Homo sapiens: one gene and its partners. The protein of the gene in region 1 interacts with the protein of each later gene in a pairwise test. Each region holds a gene or a part of one and is shown on either strand. Other genes may lie near its edges.

Region 1 (7,419 bases):
AGCGTTTGGCCTCTTAGTTGTGGAGTGCCACATGGTTCTGTACTTCAGGGGCTCTGTTGGGCGGGGGACACCCATGAGCAGACTGGTCCCTGGACTTCTCTTTGCTCCTGTCACTGTCTTTTCTTTCCTGTTGTTAGCCTTGGGAGATGCATTTTGAAATACGATTTGGAAACCATCCAGGTCAATTTGATTCAGATGAAGAGGATGCTGCTGAAGGAAGTATGGCTTGTAGTACATAGGGAGGGACTTGGCAGACCAAGAGGGCTCTGGGGACAAGTACGAGAGGGCCAGGGGCTCAGGATTGGAGCTGTGCCTCCCAGTTGGTAGCCTGGATGTGGCAGGCCTCTGGTGGCCTGACTCAGTTGGCAGCTCAGTGTCTCGCTCCTGGAGCATTTGAGTTTTGTGCTGCATGTGACCTCTCAGTGGTGTGTTCTGAATTGGAGTCTCTTTCTTGTTGGCTTGCAGAGGGAGTGACATCCAACACCAGTGACAGCGAAAGCAGTTCCAGTAAGTGTGTGTCATTCCTTCCATGTCGTGTAGCTCCACTGTGTATCCCAGCCATCCTCATTCCAGTGTTGCACAGCTGCCATTGCTGCTCAGAGGCTGGTGCTTCTTTTAGCCATGTACACTTTGAGATCCTAGAAATGCTGTGGCCAGTTCATTCTCCTTATGGGTTGGGGTTCACCCCATGGATTAAAGGAGAGTATAAGCCCTATAGTGCTGGCCGGGACCTGACTTAAAAGCATCCCTGGCACTGGGAAGGGTAAACTGCCAAAGAGTAAATCCCTGCCATGGGTACTGTGGGCCATAGGTGCTGCCAGGTTTATAGATTTGCTCAGAGACCAAAAGAAAAATGGCTCCTCTAGGACACTGCCCTAAATCTGCCTTTCCAGGTCATTAGGACCTCTTTGCCTTTGGGGCCAGTTAAAGGATGAGGTAATTGCCAAGTTCTCCTTGGGAGATCCTGTGACCAGACCAGAGAAACCGTAATTCAAACCTCATGAACTTTGGGAGCACTGGTTTTTCAGGAGCTATGGTGGCTAGAAGCCTTGTAAAATCTGCCCAGGAATATTAGGCTCAGAAGAAGCCTTTTAGCAAGCATTGTGTGCCTTGATGCAAATATCACTGTTTTCCCTGGGACTGCCATCAGCCACTTTGGGACCTCCAGGCACCCAGCACCGAGTGGCTTGACGACTGTTTTAGGAAAACCTCAACATTGCTAGGCTCGACATGGGGCTCCACCAGGAAGAGACAGCAGGTTCAGCATTGCTCTTAAAGGGCACTGGGGACCTTAGCAGAGCCATGTGCCACTTTTCTGGATGCTGCTTCCAATGCAGGAGGTGGGTTGGTAGACCTTTAAAAGGGCAAAGTTAGGCTGCTTGGGGACCTGGGTGTGTGCCCTGACTCCCCTGCATGTTGATGAAGGGGACTCGGGCAAGCATCTCAACCAGTCAAAGTGTCCCTGTCATTCTTACCAGAGCAAGGGGGCTACTGCACACAGCTGACTTGTTACCTACAAGAAGAGTTCCTCACAAATTGGGGTGGTTTGGGGTGGAGGCTTCATGGCTTCTGGGCCTTGGCCCTTTGCCCAGTGATATTTCACTGAACAAGAGAACTGCTGACTCCTGTCTCAGAGCCAGTGAAGGGTTTCATGTGCTTTCTCACCAGCAGAAAACAGAAAGGATCACAGGTGGTGGCAAGGACCACCTGATAAGGCTGTGTCCTGGCAGGGGAGGGGTACGGGGAGTACTGTACAGAAGGAGGCAGATCATATGGTGCTAACCTATCTCTCTTTTTTGTTGCAGAAGGACAAGAGGATGCTATTTTGTCATATGAGCCAGTGACACGGCAAGAAAGTAAGCCTCCTCTGAGAGCCTTGTCTTCGTGCTGGTCTCCTGGTCGTGGGGCTCAATACAGTGGGTGGCTGTGGCAGCAGAGGGAGGGACCTGGAGGAGGAGGAAGGCTTGACTCATGGCACATCCAGCCCCTGGGCTCCTTCTTCTCTATGCTTCTTCCTAGTGTCATAGGGAAGGGGGTGCATCCAGTGTGCACTTCTCTCTGTGCCTTTGCCTGCTGCCAGGACACCTTCCAAAGGAGGGGGCAAATTTACAAGGAAAGTCTATTTCAGTAGATGTAGCCACTGCTAAAAGAGAGGTCCAGGTTCTTCCCTTCAGTGGCTGCTCTGCAAAAACCTTGCTCAGTTACTGGTGTCAGTGCAGAGATTTTTTCTGACTCTGTTAGAAGGGGAGCAGCTTCCGGTTTCAGACTTGCCTTGAACTTAGATATTCTCAAATTAAAGGCTCTTTGATGTCTTTCTGTTTAAAAGCCAGACAATGTCTGAGGATGCTTTACCCTGTCTGAGTCTCTGCTCCAGAGCCTCTGTGTTCTAGCCAGACTCAGGGGTAGGACAGGCTGTCTGGTGGGGGCCTCTGTTCACTGTCTCGATGCTCTCCCTCTCTAGTTCACTATGCAAGGCCTGTGATCATCCTGGGCCCAATGAAGGACCGAGTCAATGATGACCTGATCTCCGAATTTCCACATAAATTTGGATCCTGTGTGCCACGTAAGAGTCCAGGAAGGCCCAGAGGAGTGAGGCTTGGTGCCCTGGGAATTGTTGCTCTAATGTTTTATGGAAAAGGTCTGGGATCAGATTCTAGGGCTATTTGGGGACAGGGTACATTTGACACGCTGGAAAACAGTAGGTGGCAATATATTCCCCAAAAGCTGATGGGGTTGGAGAGATTAAGCCATCAGGCTTGGCTGCTCACTCTTGAGGGGAAGTTTCAGTGGTGATGGTTGAGAATGATTGGACAAATACGGAGGCCCAGCCAAAGTGGTGTTGATGTGACTCCATTAACAGTTTGTTAGGTTCACTGTCTCCTCTACCAAGTTTGGCACCCTCTGCCATGCTTTAGCTCAGGAAACCCCACCTTTCTAGTCCAGTTTAAGCTAAAGCAAATAGCCCCCTGTGTGAGACCTGGAGATTGGAAGAGAAGTAGGCCAGACAAACCGCTTCCCAACTGCTTGTTTTCTCCCACTTACTTGAAAAAAAAAATGGAGTGGCCCAGTGACCCACCCAGATGAGAATGGACCAGTCAGTATTTTTTGGTTTGGGGCGGATCACTGCCCCTGGGCCACAAAGCATTTCCTTTCTTCCTTCAGATACTACCCGGCCTCGACGTGATAATGAGGTGGATGGACAAGACTACCACTTTGTGGTGTCCCGAGAACAAATGGAGAAAGATATTCAGGACAACAAGTTCATCGAGGCGGGCCAATTTAATGATAACCTCTATGGGACCAGCATCCAGTCAGTGCGGGCAGTTGCAGAGAGGGTAAGTGTACAGGAGATGGCCTCAAAGGGGAGGCCAATGCTTATGCCAAGGTTCCACTTGGATCCTTATCCTTCCAACACAGGAGCTGCCCAACAGTGCTGCTGACCAAAGCCATAGCACATCTGCATACTCCCAGCGCCTTGACGAAGCTATCTGTCTCCTTCATACAACTCACCCCAGAGCATTACCCAACAGGGAATAGGGGGCCCTGGACAGATGTGGCCTTTTCTGGGTAATAGGAGCAAAAAGTAGGGCCTGTCTACTTCAGAGATCGAATTTCTTAGGCCACTTTGGGTGGCCCTCGTGCCCCTCCCCTCACCCCCACCCCCGGCCAAGGTGGATGTTTAGAATGTCACTGGATTTCTGCTTGGGACTTGGTGAATAGGGAGTGGCTGGGCTGTTACAATCTCTGCTTTTTCAGGGCAAGCACTGCATCTTAGATGTTTCCGGCAATGCTATCAAGAGACTGCAGCAAGCACAACTTTACCCCATTGCCATTTTCATCAAGCCCAAGTCCATTGAAGCCCTTATGTAAGTGTTGAACTGAGAACTCAGACACACCAAGCTAAGATCGGGTCTGGAAGGGAAATGGAGAAGAAAGTGATTTGCTGGGCAGAAACTTGAAAGAAACTCTGTGCCCCAGCTCTGGTCACTGGGCGCTCCTGTTTTGAGGGCTTGTGCATATGTTCATGGTTGGACTTTTGAACGCAGGTTTGAGGAGTTAGCTACGGGCCACTGCTGCTCTGAGAGGGCAGCTTAGCAGATTTTTAGGGATCCTGGAATAATCCTTTATGGTTAATCAGAACATAAGATCTGGTTCAGAACTATTTTTCTTCTGTCTTTGGCAGGGAAATGAACCGAAGGCAGACATATGAACAAGCAAATAAGATCTATGACAAAGCCATGAAACTGGAGCAGGAATTTGGAGAGTACTTTACAGGTAAGACTCCTGCTGCCCTGCGGGGGGTTCTGGGGAACTAGCCAGGTACCTGTTTCTATAAGTGTCTCAAAGAGGTGTAGACAGAATGTAGAAACCTTGCACGGAGTTTCCAGTTGCTTTTAAGTTTTTGAGCACAAACCTTTCCAAAGCACACAAGTTCCCCGTGTCCAGCCATAGCAGTTCAGCCAGTTTATAGCATAAACCACTCACCAAATGCTTCCTTGAATTGTTGGTTTGTTCATTTTGTCTTGTCCTTACTAGATTGTAGGCTCCCTGTATTACTCTGTCTCCCTCCGTTTCAGCTCCACTCCCCCTCCCCCAGTACTTTGCTTTGCATGTTTAGGTGCTGAATAAACGTTTGTTGATGATGATGATTCCTCGGTGTGCTGTTCAAGTTGTCTGTTGGGGTGTCTGTCTGTCTGTCTGTGTGTGTGTGTGTGTGTGTGTGTGTGTAAGGTCAGTTCCTGAAACATTGGGAAGGTTTCTATGTAATACGTTCTTCACCTTTTGAAGTACAGTGACATATATATACATAAATATATGCAAGGCAGTGCCGAATCCATTCTAGCTGGTGGTGACACTAGGTTAACTGTGTAAAGAATTCATAAATGTCCTCACACACCTTGGGTCTTCAGAGCTCCCTTTACCATCAGCATCCATGTCCTTGTTTGCTGGGCTGACCTCTGACATACAGCAGATGTGATGGGCCCAGGAGCGCTGCCTCTTGCCAGAAATTGTGGCTTTCAGTTCTTTCTGTGGAGAACTGCGATTTTCCAAATCTTTTAGTAAGGCTGCTTTAGAATAACAAGCTGCTGGCCTTATGGCACCCAAGAACAACATGAACTGCAAGGTCTGGCACATAGTGGGTGCTCAATAAACATCTTTTGAATAAACACATTTTTCTGGTCATTACTACTTAGTCTCACTGTCTCAGTGAGTTGACTTCAAGCCCTGGACTTGGGGTACCTTGTTGGTTGCCCTTACTGCCCTGAACACACAGGCAGCCAGCCAGTGAACCCAAGCCCAAACCCATACTCCTGGGAACATGTCCTTCATGTGAGGGGTGAGGGGGTGGAGGGGGGACTTGTAGGATTGTTGGGAGAGGCAGGATTGCTGGGTTTGGGGGATGTGCTATGGACCACAGTAATAATTTTGTTTTCCTCTTCACTTTAGCCATTGTACAGGGTGACTCACTGGAAGAGATTTATAACAAAATCAAACAAATCATTGAGGACCAGTCTGGGCACTACATTTGGGTCCCATCCCCTGAAAAACTCTGAAGAATCCCCTCCAACCATTCTCTTGTGAACAGAAGAAATCAAGTCCCTCTTCCCTCCTCCCTCTTCATTCCTGTCCCCATGGGGAGAACAAATGCTACTGTTCTTGTCCCCTTTTTTAGATATGTCAAAAAAAATTAAGTTTTCTAGTCCTGTTCTTTTTTTTTTTTTAAGTTTTTGTTTGTTTCAGTTTATTTTTTGGGATGATGCCATCTCATTCATCATGTGACTGTGCCCATTCCTGCATGGACCTTTCCCAAGCGCTAGCACAGGTGCAAAATCCATCAGAGCCATTGTTTTCATAAAAACCAAGCAGAAGTGAAGAGAAAAGAGGAGGACTGATGGAAAGACAGACTCTGGACAGCTGCACGGCTTGTGAAGTGAGCTAAATGCACCACATGATGAGATGCTCCTGGGCATTTCTCCCTATCTGTACTGCTGTCTTGCAGCTCTGAACGGTGCAACGTAATGGCGACAGAAAGTATCTTATTTATATATAGATATATATATGTAATTTATATAAAATATATAGAAATTATTATATATATATATTATACACTCTCATATAATATATATATATTCACACACATTTGGGTTAGAAAATCTATGGAGACTTCATCAATGGTACTATGTTATTAGAGAAATGCTTTAATTTTCATATTCCAATCAGATGGCATCTTCTATCCCAGCTGGTTGGGAAGGGATTGAAGATGGTAGCAAGTGCTGCACTAAGGGCACTCGCATTTGGTCATTCTCTTGAGAGCTAGGAGGGGTCAGCCTGAGGCCGGAGAGGAAGGGCTTTTGCCTGGGGTGAGAGGGTGAGAGACTTGACCTGAAAGCAGCTGCTGCCCCTGAGGTGCAGCCAGAGTCCTGTGTGCGGACAGAGAGAATGGCTAATGATGCTCCGCGTGGAATTGCCTATTGTTTTATGCCACCTGATGTGTCTGCATGAGAGGTTTCCTTTTTGTTCCTTTTTAAGCTGCTGTTAAACCAAAACCATGTTGTGCTACTGTGTCAGCCTTTTCATTATTGCAAATTTTACTTTTACTATTTAAGTGAATGCATAGAATCCAATTTGCCAAGGTTCTAAAGGCTTATGAGGTCCTGAAGGAGCCAGGCCTTGTGATGGAGTAGGTGACACAGGCCTGGTTGTCCTGTCAGCAGAAGGGAAAGCAGGGGCTGGGCTGAGAGGAGGACACGGAGGGCTCTGCTGAGGTTCCTTCCTGGGTTCCACCAACAGGGACAGGGAGTCACTTGCCTTCCAGTTCTGTGCTGGGATGGCGGGACAGCACTTGGCTTGCTTGGCCAGCTGCGTCATGAGTTTGATTTGGTTTTTTTTTTTTTGCAGCTGCTTCATATGCTCTGCTCCAGCCCCTCCCCAACAGCTGGTAGCTTATGGTTTCTTCAAGAGGAAAGTAGACTTTATGCTGTACATTTGAGCTGTAGAGCTAAGATTCGCTTACTGGTGAGCTGTGAAACCTTGTTGCTTTTTCCCAGAGTCTGATGGCAGTGACTGTGATCAAGGGAATCTTCACCGCCACAAGTGCAGGCAGCAGGTGTGGTTCAGGTCCCCCCCCACCCCACTGTGCTCCTTTGAAGCCAACGTGCCTCCCTCGCCTCCATACTGGAGGGACGACGCAGGGGAGAACAGAGAAGTGCTTGGCCCTAGGATTGAGGCACTTGTTTCCTAGCCCGCTGGGTTAGGGCTGGTGCAAGCGAGGCAATGTTGAGGATGCTTTAAGCACTACCAGCCGAATCCGGGAACTCTGTTAACAGTTGTCCAACCAGCAGAATGAGGCTAACTGTATAAAGCATGGGACCCAGGATGAGGATAAGGAAAGGACAGCGGCTTTCCCTGGGCAGTACA
Region 2 (7,419 bases), on another chromosome or scaffold:
GGAAAACCATAAAAATGGAGGGTCAATGTTAAAAACAGTTTAAATTCATTACTCAACATTAAACATCTAGTGATGCGTAATGATGTTAAAAGACTGTCTTGTATGTAAGCAGCTCACAGTTGTGTGGGACGTATAAAACACATGTATATATGCAGGTATGTTTGTGTGTATGAATGTGTAACATATACATAAAAACTAAAAAGGAGGGTGAGGATGAAGAGAGATGATAAACTCTCGGGTGTTTGATGTAGTTGCTAAGTAAGGAAAATGGAGGTGCGAAGGCTTGCTAATTGTGCTCGAACTTACAGAGTAGAGGAACTGTGGAACTGAGATCAGGCCAGACTTGACCCCTGATTGAGCACAGGAAGCCCAGGTGAATGCCAGTAAGATGACGGGGCACTGCTAAAAATGCACTAGGACAGGAAGGTGGCTCTGGCTTTGGAGAAGATAGAAAAATCTAGTTTGGGGCAAACCATTTTTGAAAAGTTGGCACGTTACCAAATGGCAGCACCTAACAGCTAACTGGTGATATAATTCTGGAGCAAAGATACACCAAAGCCCACCAAACTGTTCAACTCACTCGTGCCTCACAAAACCACCAGTGGCTTAATACTCTAGACTTTTCAATAATTACCAAAGTAGTCCTAAATATTCCCATACCCTACCTGATGTAGTCCCTTCTACAGGTCTTAAGCACTTTTTACCTTTTCATCCCATTCAATGAAATCACTAGGGGGCAGCAGGGCTGGGCCATGGAGGTAGACCTCATTCAAGCTAGCACTGGTAAAGTGTCCACTGTGTGACAGTCACTTGAGACACATCACATAGGATGTGAGTACCCCAGAGTACACATCACATAGGATGACATCACATCACATCACATAGGATGACACAGATCTGTTACCCACCGATTCATTTACAAAATCAAATGTCAGAAAACTCTGAGCTAAAATGTCTGCCACCTTTCACTAGATTCAAGTTTGGGGGACTACTACCTAAATAAATAAGCTGTGTTTCGTGAAATTCAGTACATTCCTACACAGATCAATAACAACACATGGGAGAACAGGTTCACTTGACACCTTAGCTAGCTTGATGTAGGACCTCTGCCAAATTACCTCTGTACCTATGTTTTCTTGTCTGTTATATTTCAATCTTGATTTTATAAGTTTAAAACTGACCATAAAAACATTTCCTAAGTACCAAGTGCTATATAATTCTGCCATGCTCCTGGGTAGACCCAACAGGCCTGAGGCTACACTGGGCTGGCAGGAGTGCGTGTAGAACAGGAACAGATCAGCAGAGCGTGCCAATTCAGGACACCTGAAGTCAAGGTCTGTGCTGCAAACTCCCTGCCACTACTGAGCAGTGTCCTTTCTACTGCCCATTAGGGACAGTCTATTGATTATGAAAGATTAAAGTAGTCAATTACAGCCTCAGTAATTTAGGAAACCCTACTTTCGGCTCCAAGTGTGACTAAAATCCTTGACAGGCAAATCACTTTTCCTTACTCAAATCAACCACGTATCTGCATGTCTATGAAGGGTGGAGAGAATGTAGAGAAGGCACAAACCTAAGACTCGGTTTCTGCCCTCAAGGAGCTGATAATTTGGAAAGGAGAAATCACGTCACAAGCAAAGGACTGCAGAAAATCTGGAAGATAGCAATGAGAACAGTTTCACCAGGGTGGAGCAGTTGGGAGCCAGGATATGCAGCACAGCAGAGAGCAACAGAAGTGGGACTCCACTTCCAGATGGCAGATGGGGCCAATACTGAACCCTTAGGGTGAGCCAGAAAAGATCTGTAGGTGTCAAAGGAGACTGAGAGAGGGTAACTATAAAAAGAAGCCAATGTACAGAGTAGATGTTATGAGGGTAGGGATGTATCCAGTAAGTAGATGCAACAGAAAGTTGAGTGCTCAAGGCTGGGCATGGGCATGTGGCTCCGGCCTGTAGTCCCAGCACTTTGGGACTGTGATTGTGCAACTGCACTCCAGCCTGGGCAACAGGGCAAGACTATGCCTCCAAATTATGAGACACATCTCATTTAAACCTCCCAACAGAGGAGTTTCTAGCTCTCATTTGGGGAAAGTAGGGCCCAGAAGGGTAAAGTAGTGTAAACCAAAGAAAATGACTGGCCGGACGCCATGGCTCACACCTGCAATCCCGGCACTTCGGGAGGCCAAGGTGGGGAGATCACTTGAGCTCAGGAGTTTGAGACCAGCGTGGGGAACACGGCAAAACCCCATATCTACAAACAGGTAACATTTGGGTTTTTGACAATCATCAAAAATGGTTAAGCTTTCAAAGGTCAAGCCTTTGATAAATACCATTTATACTACCTATTATAAACCATAGTAGTATAGAGAAGAGTGGTCACTTAAAGAGTAGGTAATGGGTATACAGGTCACTATATTATGCTTTGGTTCGTGTTCTAAATTTTCTACATTTTTCTGTAATGTTTTGCATATTCAAACAATCCAACTATACAAAGTCATCTTTGCAAAAACTGGGAAAAACTGAACACTGGGTACTGGAAAAACTGTTGGTTAAAGAAAAAAAAGAAGCCCTTATCTGTTAGAAACATACTCAAGTATGAAAAGTATGTAAGAGGCCGGGTGTGGTGGCTCACACCTATAATCCCAGCACTTTGGGAGGCTGAAGCGGATGAATCACAAGGTCAGGAGTTCAAGACCAACCCGGCCAACATGGTGAAACCCCATCTCTACTAACAGTACAAAAATCAGCTGGGCACAGTGGCAGGTGCCTGTAATCCCAGCTACTCGGGAGGCTGAGGGGTGGTGGCGGAGGCTGCAGTGAGCTGAGATCGCGCCACTGAGCTCTAGCCTGGGAGGCAGAGTGAGACTCCATCTCAAAAAAAAAGGCCGGGCTCGGTGGCTCACACCTGTAATCCCAGCACTTTGGGAGGCCGAGGCAGGCAGATTACCTGAGGTCGGGAGTTCGAGACCAGCCTGACCAACATGTAGAAACCCTCTGTTTCTGCTCTATCTCTGCTAAAAATACAAAATTTGCCAGGTGTGGTGGCACATGCCTGTAATCCCAGCTACTCGGGAGGCTGAGGCAGGAGAATCGCTTGAACCCAGGAGGCGGAGGTTGTGGTGAGCCGAGATAGTGCCACTGCATTCCAGCCTGGGCAACAAGAGTAAAACTCTGCCTCAGAAAACAAAACAAAACAAAAAACAAAAAAAACAAAGAAAGAATATATAAGATACATCTACTACGGTAGCCATAAAAATTGAAACAAAAATTGCTCTAAAGTATGTAATATTTACCAACACAAAGATGAGGATTAAAATTTAAAAAAATAAGAACTATTTTAGAAGGATAGGTGACTAGGATTAGCCTTAAATTATCCTAGCCCACACCTCCACCCAAAAGTAGGGAAGATAGATGTAACAGAAATAGCCAAAATGTTTATGAGGTTAAAACTGGGAAAGGAATGGAGTTGTTTAGTGGGTATAGAGTTTCTGTTTGGATTATGAAAAGGTTCTGGAACTAGATAGTGGCAATGGTTACACAACACTATGAAGGTACTCCATGCCACTAAATTGTACACTTAAAAATGGTTGAGGCTGGGCGTGGTGGCTCATGCTTGCAATCCCAGCACTTTAGGAGGTCAAGGCAGGAGTATCCCTTGAGGCTAGTTCAAGACCAGCTTAGGCAACAAAGGGAGACCCTGTCTCTATTAAAAAAACAATTATTTAGCTCAAGCAGCAGTTCTTTACATTTGTGCAGTCTCTGAAGAAGGCCAAGATGTAATCCTTTGGTCCTATTCTGGCCTGGAGGGCCACACCTTTCTTCCACTCAGCAGTCCCAGAGACTTAAGAGCTGCTGTATCACTGCTGCTGAGGCTTCTTTCGAAGGTCCTCACTGAAGCTGCTCAGCCCTTCCTCCTAAGATGAAGTTTCAGAGCCTGGCCATCCCCACTATCACCTTCTTCTTCATAGGCTCCAGTGTGCTGATGCCTTAAAATATGGTTCCCAGAATGGTTCACAATATTCCACATTTATAAAGCAAAGACCTATACTGATCTCACAACAGGTCTTTGTGTTAATACAAACGAAGGCAGGGGCATCAAACTACATTACTCATGCTTTCCCACCATGCACTTGAAGTATTTAAAATAGGAAGAAAAATCACAGCTTCAATTAGGAATATCCTTGGTAAAGCAGTAAAAATGAATCGTGACCCACTTTTTAGTACCCTATGTTATGAAACACGCAAAGCACTTCTGCTGCATACACAAGCATGATGGCTGCTGCAGGAAAAGCACTTGAGCTACAAGCTGAACTAGCTGTTCTTTCTATAGAACAAACTATGGTTAATTCAGACATGGGTACTAAGTTTTTTAAAAATGAAGTTAAGTCTGTTCCTTGAAGTAAAAGAACAGTATTTGGGTTTTTTGTTTTGAGACAGGGTCTTGCTCTGTTGCCCAGATTTGAGTGCTGTGGTGCAATCACTGCTCACTGCAGCCTCAATCTCCAGGACTCAAGTGATCCTCTAGCCTCAGCCTCCCAAGTAGGTGGGACTATAGGCATATACCACCACACCAGCTAATTTTATTTTTGAAAAGACCAGGTCTGGACATATTGTCCAGACTGGGCTAGAGTGATCCTCCTGCCATGGCCTCCCAAAGTGTTGGGATTACAGACATGAGCCACAGCACCTGGCCAAAATAACAGTATTTGTTGCCAATGGTAAAATTTAAGCTTTCAAGCAAAAAAGAGTTTCGGAAAACCTGTATCCATCAACATAAGCCTGACAGTCTTTCAATACTCAGAGACTTTTCTAACAGCTATGGTGAATGTGACTTTGATACTGTATAACAAAATGTACCAACATCTGGAACATCTGCATGGCTCTGCCTGGCTCAGTGAACAGGTCCTTTCCAAATCACCAACACCTTACAAATGTATGCACTGGTAAAGGATCCAGTCGGAGTACAAGATAAAGTGACTTTTTTTTTTTTTTTTTGATACAGAGTCTCACCCTGTCGCCCAGGCGGGAGTGCAGTGGCGCAATCTGGGCTCACTGCAAACTCCACCTCCCAGGTTCAAGTGATTCTATGGCTTCAGCCTCCCAAGTAGCTGGGACTACAGGGGCCCACCACCATGCCCAGCTAGTTTTTGTGTTTTTAGTAGAGATGGGGCTTTGCCATGTTAGCCAGGCTGGTCTCAGACTACTGACCTCAGGTAATCCGCCCGCCTTGGCCTCCCAAAGTCCTGGGGTTACAGGAGTGAGCCACCGCGCCCAGCCAAATGATGAACTCTAATGTAAAAGTATGAAGAGTTTATTGATAAGGTTTTAGGTTTCACATTGCAACTAACCTTCATAGAAACTACTGCTTATTGAGTTTTGGTATAGAATCAAATATGAATATCCAGAATTATTTGATTACTCCTCCCATTTCCAACTATTTATCTGTGCAAGGATTGAGCTGCTCCATAAAAGTCAACCAAAGCAACACATTCCAAGAGTGGAGACAGATGCAGGTATGAGAATCCAGCTGTGTTCTATTAAGCCAGACATTTAGAAGGCTCCAAAAATGTGAGTACACAGAAGGCTCCAAAAATGTGAGTATACATGAAAGACAGGAGAAGAATGTGCAGAACAAAGGGAGGTGACGGCCCCCCTAGCCCTGAACTGGAAGGCCATGCTTAACCAGAGACTCATCAACCGTGGAGCAGCCACATACTTGAGCTCCTTCAGAAGGTCCTGATCAAGACGGAAAATCACATAAATCATGACGTGGGGAAACTTCGAAGAACATTCGACTTACACAAAAGAAGTCTTAGACGTACATACAGCTGCCATTAGGTTCTATGAAAATGATGCAATCACACTCATTTCATGCCCGGGTGTGCAGGTCTAATCAGCATGATGTAAAAGCAACCAGGCGACAAATACTCTCCTGAACCTTCCAGGGGAAGCTGGAAGCCAGAGTGTGATCCTGGAAAGACATTCAGAGTCTGCTTTGTACGTTCTAAGCTTCCAGGGAGACTCCTTAAAATTGTGAAGTCTTTCCAGAACACTAAGCTTAATTTTTCTTTTTTTTTTTTTGGAGACAGTCTCTCTCTGTCGCCCAGGCTGGAGGAGTGCAGTGGCATGATCTCAGCTCAATGCAACCTCCGCCTCCCTGGTTCAAGCAATTCTCCTGCCTCAGCCTCCCAAGTAGCTAGGATTACAGGTATGTGCCGCCACACCCGTTTTGTATTTTTAGTAGACATGGGGTTTTGCCACGTTGGTCAGGGTGGTCTCAAACTTCTGGCCACAAGTGATCCGCCTGCTTCGGCCTTCCAAAGTGCTGGGATAACAGGCATGAACCACTGCACCCAGCCACAAAGCTTAATTTCTAATAGAAACATAAATTGAAGGCTGGGTACTGTGGCTCACACAATGAGCCTTGGGAGGCTGAGGCAGGAAGATCCCTTGAGCCCAGGGGTTTGAGACTAGCCTGGGCAACATAGAGACACTCTGTCTCTACAAAAAAATACAAAAATTAGCTGGGCATGGTGGCGCACCCTGTAATCCCAGCTACTTGGGAGGCTGAGGTGGGAGGATGGCTTGAGCCTGGGAAGTCGAGGCTGCACTGAGCTATGATCCTGCCACTGCACTCCAGCCTGGGTGACAGAAGGAGAGCCTATTTCATAAATAAATACATGTTTCTAACTCATATGTGGGGAAAACGAGGCTCAGAGAGGTGAAGAAACTTACTTCAGATCACACAACTAACACATGGCTGAACTGATGAAACTCTGGTCTGCCTTATTCCAAAGCCAGGGCTTTTACATGAACCGTCATGCAGAGACCTCTTAGCAAATCCAAATATTTCTGGTAACACTTTTCATAGAGGATAATGGTTTGGAACTAAGCAATGGAACACTTGGAGTGAAGAAGGATAACAAACCTAAACGACTTGACATTTGACATGTAAACAGCATTTTAAAATAAGCTTTTCAATAGCTTTACAGGCCCTAGCATCAGTGAAAACTAGCTGTAGTTTTTATACACTGCTTTCCTTCCTATTACATACAAATCTTAAAATATGCTCAGAGACAGGAAGTAGAATGGTGGTTGCCAGGGACCTGGGGGAAGGAGGGCAATAGGGAATTACTATTCAAAGGGGACAGGGTTTTAGTTTTACAAGCTGTAAGAGTTAAGGAGCTGGATAGTGGTGATGGTTATACATTACGAATACACTCAATATCCCTGAAATGTATACTGAAAAATGGGTAAAGTGGCACATTTTATGTTATGTATATTTTACCACCATAAAAATTTTGGATAAAAATATGCTCAGAAATTTAGACAGACATGCTAAGTTTAAAGATTCAAAGGTTAGAATTCTAAACTCCTAGGCTGGGCGTGGTAGCTCATGCCTGTAATCCCAACACTTTGG
Region 3 (6,896 bases), on another chromosome or scaffold:
AGTAGCTGAGATTGCAGATGCCCACCACCAAGCCAGGTTATTTTTTGTATTTTTAGTAGAGACAGGGTTTCAACATATTGGCCAGGCTGGTCTCGAATTCCTGACCTCAGGTGATCCACTCTCCTCAGCCTCCCAAAGTGCTGGGATTACAGGCATGAGCCACCGCGCCCGGCTCCAAATCTGCTAGTTTCTATTAGCATGATCCCGTGCATGTGACTTGACCTCTCTGTACCTCGGTTTCCACATTTGTAAAGTTGTGATCAGGTCATTGTGAGAATTTACTGAGACTTTGCAGCACTGCCTGGTGTCAAAACACATAAAGACTCTAGAATCAGAGTGTAAGGATTTGGACCCTGCCTCTACCATGTAGCAGCTATGGGATTCTGGGCAAATCACATAACTACCCTGTGCCTCAGTTTCCTCATCTGTAAAATGGAGATAATCAGTTCCTATGTCATAGGGTTCAAATGAGAGGTTGGTATTAATAAAGCACAGTATCTGGGATGAGGTAGGAAGTGCTGTGTCAATCAATGTTCAATGACTGAAGTGTTTAGTCCCATCTCTGATACTTTTACTTTTAAATGTTCGCTGTTAATGATTTTTATTCCATGGTGTTTTGCTGGGACCTGTACAAACTCCTGGGAGGAATTTTGCGAGAGCCAGTGCTAAGTTTGCGATCTCTTGCCTCCTGGGGCCTGGCAGGAATCATAAATTCAGGGTAACCTTTTCTTACCTGTGCCCACTCCTGCCTTATAGGAAGATAGGCCTGGGTGGCCAGATGTGCTGATCTTTTCAACAGAAGCCATAATTCAGGAGTTTTCAGGCAAGATGTCTCATTTTAAAATTTTAGCCACAGATTCAGACTATATTTCTTTTTTTTTTTTTTTTTTCTTTTTTGAGATGGACTCTCATTCTGTCGCCCAGGCTGGAGTGCAGTGGCACGATCTTGGCTCACTGCAACCTCTGCCTCCCAGGTCAAGCGTTTCTCCTGCCTCAGCCTCCCGAGTAGCTGGGATTACAGGTGCTTGCCACCACGCCTGGCTAATTTTTGTGTTTCTAGTAGAGATGGGGTTTCACCATGTTGACAGGCTGGTCTTGAACTCCTGGTCTTAAGCAATTCTCCCATCTCAGCTTCCCAAAGTGCTAGGATTACAGGCATGAGCCACCGTGCCTGGCCTTCAAAACATATCTCTAAAAGCACTGTATAGGCCAGACAAATCCAACAGAGGGTGACTTTGGCCCATGGGTCAGAGATATCAGAGGGAGGCTGCATCATGCTGTGGTGGGAATCCTGGGCTTGGCTCCAGGCCCTGGACTTTGCAAACATATTGTTACCACCTTGCTTGGATCACTTATCCAAGCCCTTGACTTAGCTCATAACTGCCCTGTTGACTAGGGATTACTAGACCCATTTTGAAGATGGGGAGACTGAGGCTGAGGGAGGTAGTGCGGCTTGCTGAAGGTGGAGGAGGCCAGACCAGAACCCAGGCGTCTTTTTTTTTTTTTTTTTTTTAAGTCTTGCTGTGTCACCCAGACTGGAGTGCAGTGGCACGATCTCTGCTCACTGCAACCTCTGCCTCCCAGGTTCAAGCAATTCTCGTGCCTCAGCGTCCCGAGTAGCTGGGATTACAGGCATGAGCCACCACACCCAGGTAAAATTTTTTTGTATTTTTAGGAGAGACAGGGTTTTGCTATGTTGACCAGGGTGATCTTGAACTCCTGGCCTCAAGTGATCCACCTGCCTCAGCCTTCCAAAGTGCTGGGATTACAGGTGTGAGCTGCCGTGCCTGACCTAAGGAAAATATTCTTTAAAAATTCAGACATCAGGCTGGGCGCAGTGGCTCACGCCTGAATCCCAGCACTTTGGGAGGCTGAGACAGGTGGATCGTGGATCACGAGGTCAGGGGTTCAAGACCAGCCTGGCCAAGATGCTGAAACCCCCTGTCTATTAAAAATACAAAAATTAGCCGGGCATGGTGGCATGCACCTGTAATCCCAGCTACTCGGGAAGCTGAGGCAGGAGAATCACTTGAACCCGGGCAGCAGAGGTTGCAGTGAGCTGAGATCGTGCTACTGTACTCCAGCCTGGGTGACAGAGCAAGACGCCATCTCAAAAAAAAAAAAAAAAAATTCAAACAGCATGGAATAGATAAAAATGCAAGACTGGGCGCAGTGGCTCACGCCTGTGATCCCAGCACTTTGGGAGGGTGAGGTGGGTGGATCACTTGAGGTGAGGAGTTCAAGACCAGCCTGGCCAACATGGTGAAACCCTGTCTTTACTAAAAAAATACAAAAATTAGCAGGGCGTGGTGGTGAGTGCCTATAATTCCAGCCACTTGGGAGGTTAAGGCAGGAGAATCACTTGAACCCGTGAGGTGGAGGTTTGCAGTGAGCCGAGATCGCGCCACTGCACTCCAGCCTGGGTGACAAGAGTGAAACTCGGCCTCAGGAAAAAAAAAAAAAAAAAGCAACAGACCTTCTGTCTCTCTTTAAACGGTGACTCTGTTCCCTAAGGGCAACCCCAGGGGTGAGAGTTGAATGGGCATCAATTTAATGGGTTCGTTTCCCAGCAGCATCAACTAACCTGGCTTCACGAGAGCCTCCCTGGAGGATTCTGGATGATTCTGGGAGCAGGTCCTGGACTCTACGTGCTTCAGTGGGAATCTGGACACGTTTCTTATCCTTTGGGCCTCAGTTTCCTCATCTGTAGAATGGGAATGACAACAGTACCTACCTCATGGGGTTAAGGCTCAGGCCAGTTAACACCCTAAGGAGCGATGCCTTGGATGTCGTAAATGCTAGAAAAGCATGAGTTGTTATGAATAGGTCCTGGTGCCCCCCACCTTCCTTCCACAAACCAAGACAACCAAGGAGCCACACCTGCCACCTGGCTTTGCTCTCTGAGGTTTCAGTGTGTCTGCAGATCACAGATCACCCCAGGTGGCACTTTCAGGGAGCTGGGGACTGAAAGGGGGCTGGCAGATGTCTTCTTCCCTGTCCCATGATGTCCTGTCCTGCTCATGAATGATGGTTGTCAGTGCTCCCTAAATGGTGGCCTGTGCTGAGCACATGGGGACCCCTTTATAGATGCTAACTCCCATTTCCTCACTCATTCAGGAACTGTGCTAGGTGCTAGGGCCACGGGGTGAACAAGAAGTAGGATCCCAGCCCTCACAGAGCTCAATTGCTGGTGCGAGTGGCCAGGAAGGAGATAAGATGGGGTGATGTGACAGTCCTGGGGGAAGGATGGCCAGGGAGGGTCCCTCTCGGGAGGTGACTAATGAGCTGAGGCTGGGAGAATACGGAGGAGGCAGATGTGTGACAGTGTAGGGGAAGAGCTTTTCCTGCTGTGGGAACAGCATATGCAGCCTGCCACAAGAAATGGCATGTGGGCCCGGCACGGTGGCTCATGCCTGTAATCCCAGCACTTTGGGAGGCCAAGGCAGGCAGACCACCTGAGGTCAGGAGTTCGAGACCAGCCTGGCCAACAAGGCAAAACCCTGTCTCTACTACAAATACAAAAATTAGCCGGGTGTGGTGGTGGGCACCTGTAATCCCAGCTACTCAGGAGGCTGAGGCAGGAGAAACGCTTGAACCCAAGAGGCAGAGGTTGCAGTGAGCCGAGATCACCCCATGGCACTCCAGCCTGGGTGACAGAGTGATACTCCATCTCAAAAAAAAAAAAAAGAAAAAGAAAAAGGAAGGGAAATTTCCAAGGCAAGATTCCAACCCAGCCTGCCTTTCAGAGAGGCGCAATTGCAAAGTGTTCATGAGAACGGACTGCGAATCCTTGGTTCGAATCATTGCTCTGCTGCTTGCTGGCTACATGGTCTTGGGCGAGTATCTTACCTTCTCTGGTGTCAGTTTCCTCATCTGTAGAATAAGTGTGCTAATCATAGGATCTCCTCGCCGGGCCATGGTGATGATTAAATCAGAGGTACCAGTAACTCGGGCAGAACTGTGTCTGGCACTTGGCAGCACCTGGATCACCTTCCTTCTCTCCACCTTCGCGGCACCTGTAACTGCAATGTTGTCCTCTGCCTTTTCTCCCGCCCTGTCCCCTCCCACCTCATCATGTCCCCGGCCTCTCTGCAGATCCTCTGGACCTTCTCCATCTACCTGGAGTCAGTGGCCATCTTGCCGCAGCTGTTCATGGTGAGCAAGACCGGCGAGGCGGAGACCATCACCAGCCACTACTTGTTTGCGCTAGGCGTTTACCGCACGCTCTATCTCTTCAACTGGATCTGGCGCTACCATTTCGAGGGCTTCTTCGACCTCATCGCCATTGTGGCAGGCCTGGTCCAGACAGTCCTCTACTGCGATTTCTTCTACCTCTATATCACCAAAGGTAGCTGGAATGTGGGACGGCTGGAAGGGAACCTCCTATTTCTGCAGCTCCTGCCCTCCCTGGGGACTGGGGTCTCCTTACCCCTGTATTATGCAAAGAAGGGAGCATTTCTTCGCCGGGTTTCTGGGGTGGCAGGCCTACCATCCTCCTAGGAATTCAGACCGTTAGCCTCTGCCTCCCTAAGGGCTAAGGAGTTTCTGTCCTTAGCCCCCATGTCACTTGGAGCGTAGGCCAGGCAGGGCAGGGACTCAGCCCACTGAAATTCATTCATTTATTCATGCAACAAATGTATTGAGTACTTTCTATGTCCCCAGCCAGGTGCTAGGCTCTGGGGATACATTAGGAGGAGAAAAGATAGACAAAGGCCTCCATTTCCCTTTTATTCTGGTGGGGGAGATGGTGAATGAACAAGTAAAGAAAGAATTAGTTGGGCATGGTGGCTCATACCTGTAATCCCAGCACTTTGGGAGACTGAGGCAGGGAGATTTCTTAAGCCTAGGAGTTCCAGAGCAACATAGCAAGACCCTGTCACTATAAAAAATAAAAAAATAAAAAAATTAGCTGGGCATGGTGGTGCACGCCTGTGGTCCCAGCTCCTTGGGAGGCTGAGGTGGGAGAATTGCTTGAGGAGGTCAAGGCTGCATGGAGCTGTGACTATGCCACTGCACTCCAGCCTGGGCTACAGAGTGGGACCTTGTCTCAAAAAAAGAAAGAAAGAAAATTGCCAGTAGTGAGAAAGGGTAGGAAGGAAAGAAACCAGGAATGTATCTGTGAGTCCTGGGGGACCTCCCTCCCTGTGGATCTGCCCATCTAGCGTGCCTGCCCTGCTCTGGCTGTGGGAGGCTGTCCCCTCCCTGCAGGGGCCCCAGCGGTAATGCCCTCCCTGTTTTCTCTCCTCACAGTCCTAAAGGGGAAGAAGTTGAGTTTGCCGGCATAGCCCCGGTCCTCTCCATCTCTCTCCTCGGCAGCAGCGGGAGGCAGAGGAAGGCGGCAGAAGATGAAGAGCTTTCCCATCCAGGGGTGACTTTTTTAAGAACCCACCTCTTGTGCTCCCCATCCCGCCTCCTGCCGGGTTTCAGGGGGACAGTGGAGGATCCAGGTCTTGGGGAGCTCAGGACTTGGGCTGTTTGTAGTTTTTTGCCTTTTAGACAAGAAAAAAAAATCTTTCCACTCTTTAGTTTTTGATTCTGATGACTCGTTTTTCTTCTACTCTGTGGCCCCAATTTTTATAAAGTGTTTTTGAGTGTCCTATGGGCCGGGGCAGGGTCCAAGATCTTTTCCCTTCCCCAGGCCCCTCGGCTCCCTCCCAGATCCCACCCCCAGCCCCACTGGTTGCCAAACACTAAATCTGCCGACACCCATCTGCCCCACCTCCTGCCATGGCCATGAACCGCGACCCCCACTAAATTTCTAGATTGGGGATAGGGAGAAAGGGAGGCCCAGGAAGGTCTCCCCTGATTTTTTTTCATAGTAATTTTTTTCCCCAGAGTTTGAATTTTTTGGTCTTCTCCTGGTTTTTTGGCAAATTAGGGGGGCCCGGGGCTCAAGTGCGGGAAGGGGGCTGGCCCGAGGATCCCATGGCTCTCACACCATGTTTTTGTACAGAACTGATGGTTGAATCTTTGTTCTCTTGAAATAAACAGAAGAAAATGAAACCTTTCTTTTGCTGCTCCTTGCCACTCTGTCCCTGGTGTGTATGGGGTCCCGCCCCCGCCCCTCTTTCTGCTTCTGCTTTTGCCTTATTGACTATCTGTAGGCGACGAGGCCTAGGAGGAGCAGGAAGAGGAGAAACTGGGTCTCCCAAGACTCTCAGCTGTGCAGTTCCTCGCCGTGCTGCTGGGAAGAGGTTTTGGAGAGAATCTTGAAGAGTCTTCTTACCTTGGCACAGAACTTGTCTGATGGTTCTCCAAACCCTCAGGGTTGCAGAGGACCTTCAGGAGAATTGGCTGGGCATGGTGGCTCATGCCTGTAATCCCAGCACTTTGGGAGGCTGAGGCGGGCGGATCACCTGAGGTCAGGAGTTTGAGACCAGCCTGACCAACATGGCAAAACCCCGTCTCTACTAAAAATACAAAAAAAAATTAGCTGGGCGTGGTGGTGTGCCCCTGTAGTCCCAGCTACTCAGGAGGCTGAGGCAGGAAAATTGCATGAACCCAGGAGGCGAATATTTCAGTGAGCCGAGATCACACCACTGTACTCCAACCTGGGCAACAGAGTGAGACTCCATCTCAAAAAAAAAAAAAGAGCATGTATGTCAGGGACCACACATGGGCAGCCCCCGTCCTACCCTCACTTGACATTTTTTGTTGAGGCATTCTGTTTCCTTAAAAAAAGAGAATGGGTCGCTAGCCTTTAAAAACCAGATTTTCACATTTCTGGCTTCTCTTGAAAAAAAAAATCCATCAGTCTAACAATGCTGGGTCCTCATTTCTGGGTGGCAACAGATGGCTGGATCTGAATGGATGGGACGCAGCTCTTTTCACCACAGTCCCCAGGACTTGGCTGCAGGCTTGTTACATTTATTATTGGGCTGATGCCGTGTGGTTAT

Evidence for each region.
Region 2: the proteins of DLG3 (region 1) and EIF4H interact in binary tests that used the Homo sapiens proteins (3 or more experiments, as listed by UniProt).
Region 3: the proteins of DLG3 (region 1) and KDELR1 interact in binary tests that used the Homo sapiens proteins (3 or more experiments, as listed by UniProt).

Annotation. Positions count from the first base shown.
Region 1 is NC_000023.11:70,496,715-70,504,133, forward strand, and holds part of DLG3 (disks large homolog 3), read left to right. Parts: intron 1-465; coding exon of another isoform or gene 466-507; intron 508-1,805; coding exon 1,806-1,856; intron 1,857-2,461; coding exon 2,462-2,563; intron 2,564-3,162; coding exon 3,163-3,335; intron 3,336-3,756; coding exon 3,757-3,866; intron 3,867-4,183; coding exon 4,184-4,275; intron 4,276-5,448; coding exon 5,449-5,555; 3' UTR 5,556-7,419. UniProt on the Homo sapiens protein: Required for learning most likely through its role in synaptic plasticity following NMDA receptor signaling.
Region 2 is NC_000007.14:74,177,207-74,184,625, reverse strand, and holds part of EIF4H (eukaryotic translation initiation factor 4H), read right to left. Parts: intron 1-7,419. UniProt on the Homo sapiens protein: Stimulates the RNA helicase activity of EIF4A in the translation initiation complex. Binds weakly mRNA.
Region 3 is NC_000019.10:48,381,682-48,388,577, reverse strand, and holds the end of KDELR1 (ER lumen protein-retaining receptor 1), read left to right. Parts: intron 1-4,095; coding exon 4,096-4,348; intron 4,349-5,250; coding exon 5,251-5,285; 3' UTR 5,286-6,003; downstream 6,004-6,896. UniProt on the Homo sapiens protein: Receptor for the C-terminal sequence motif K-D-E-L that is present on endoplasmic reticulum resident proteins and that mediates their recycling from the Golgi back to the endoplasmic reticulum.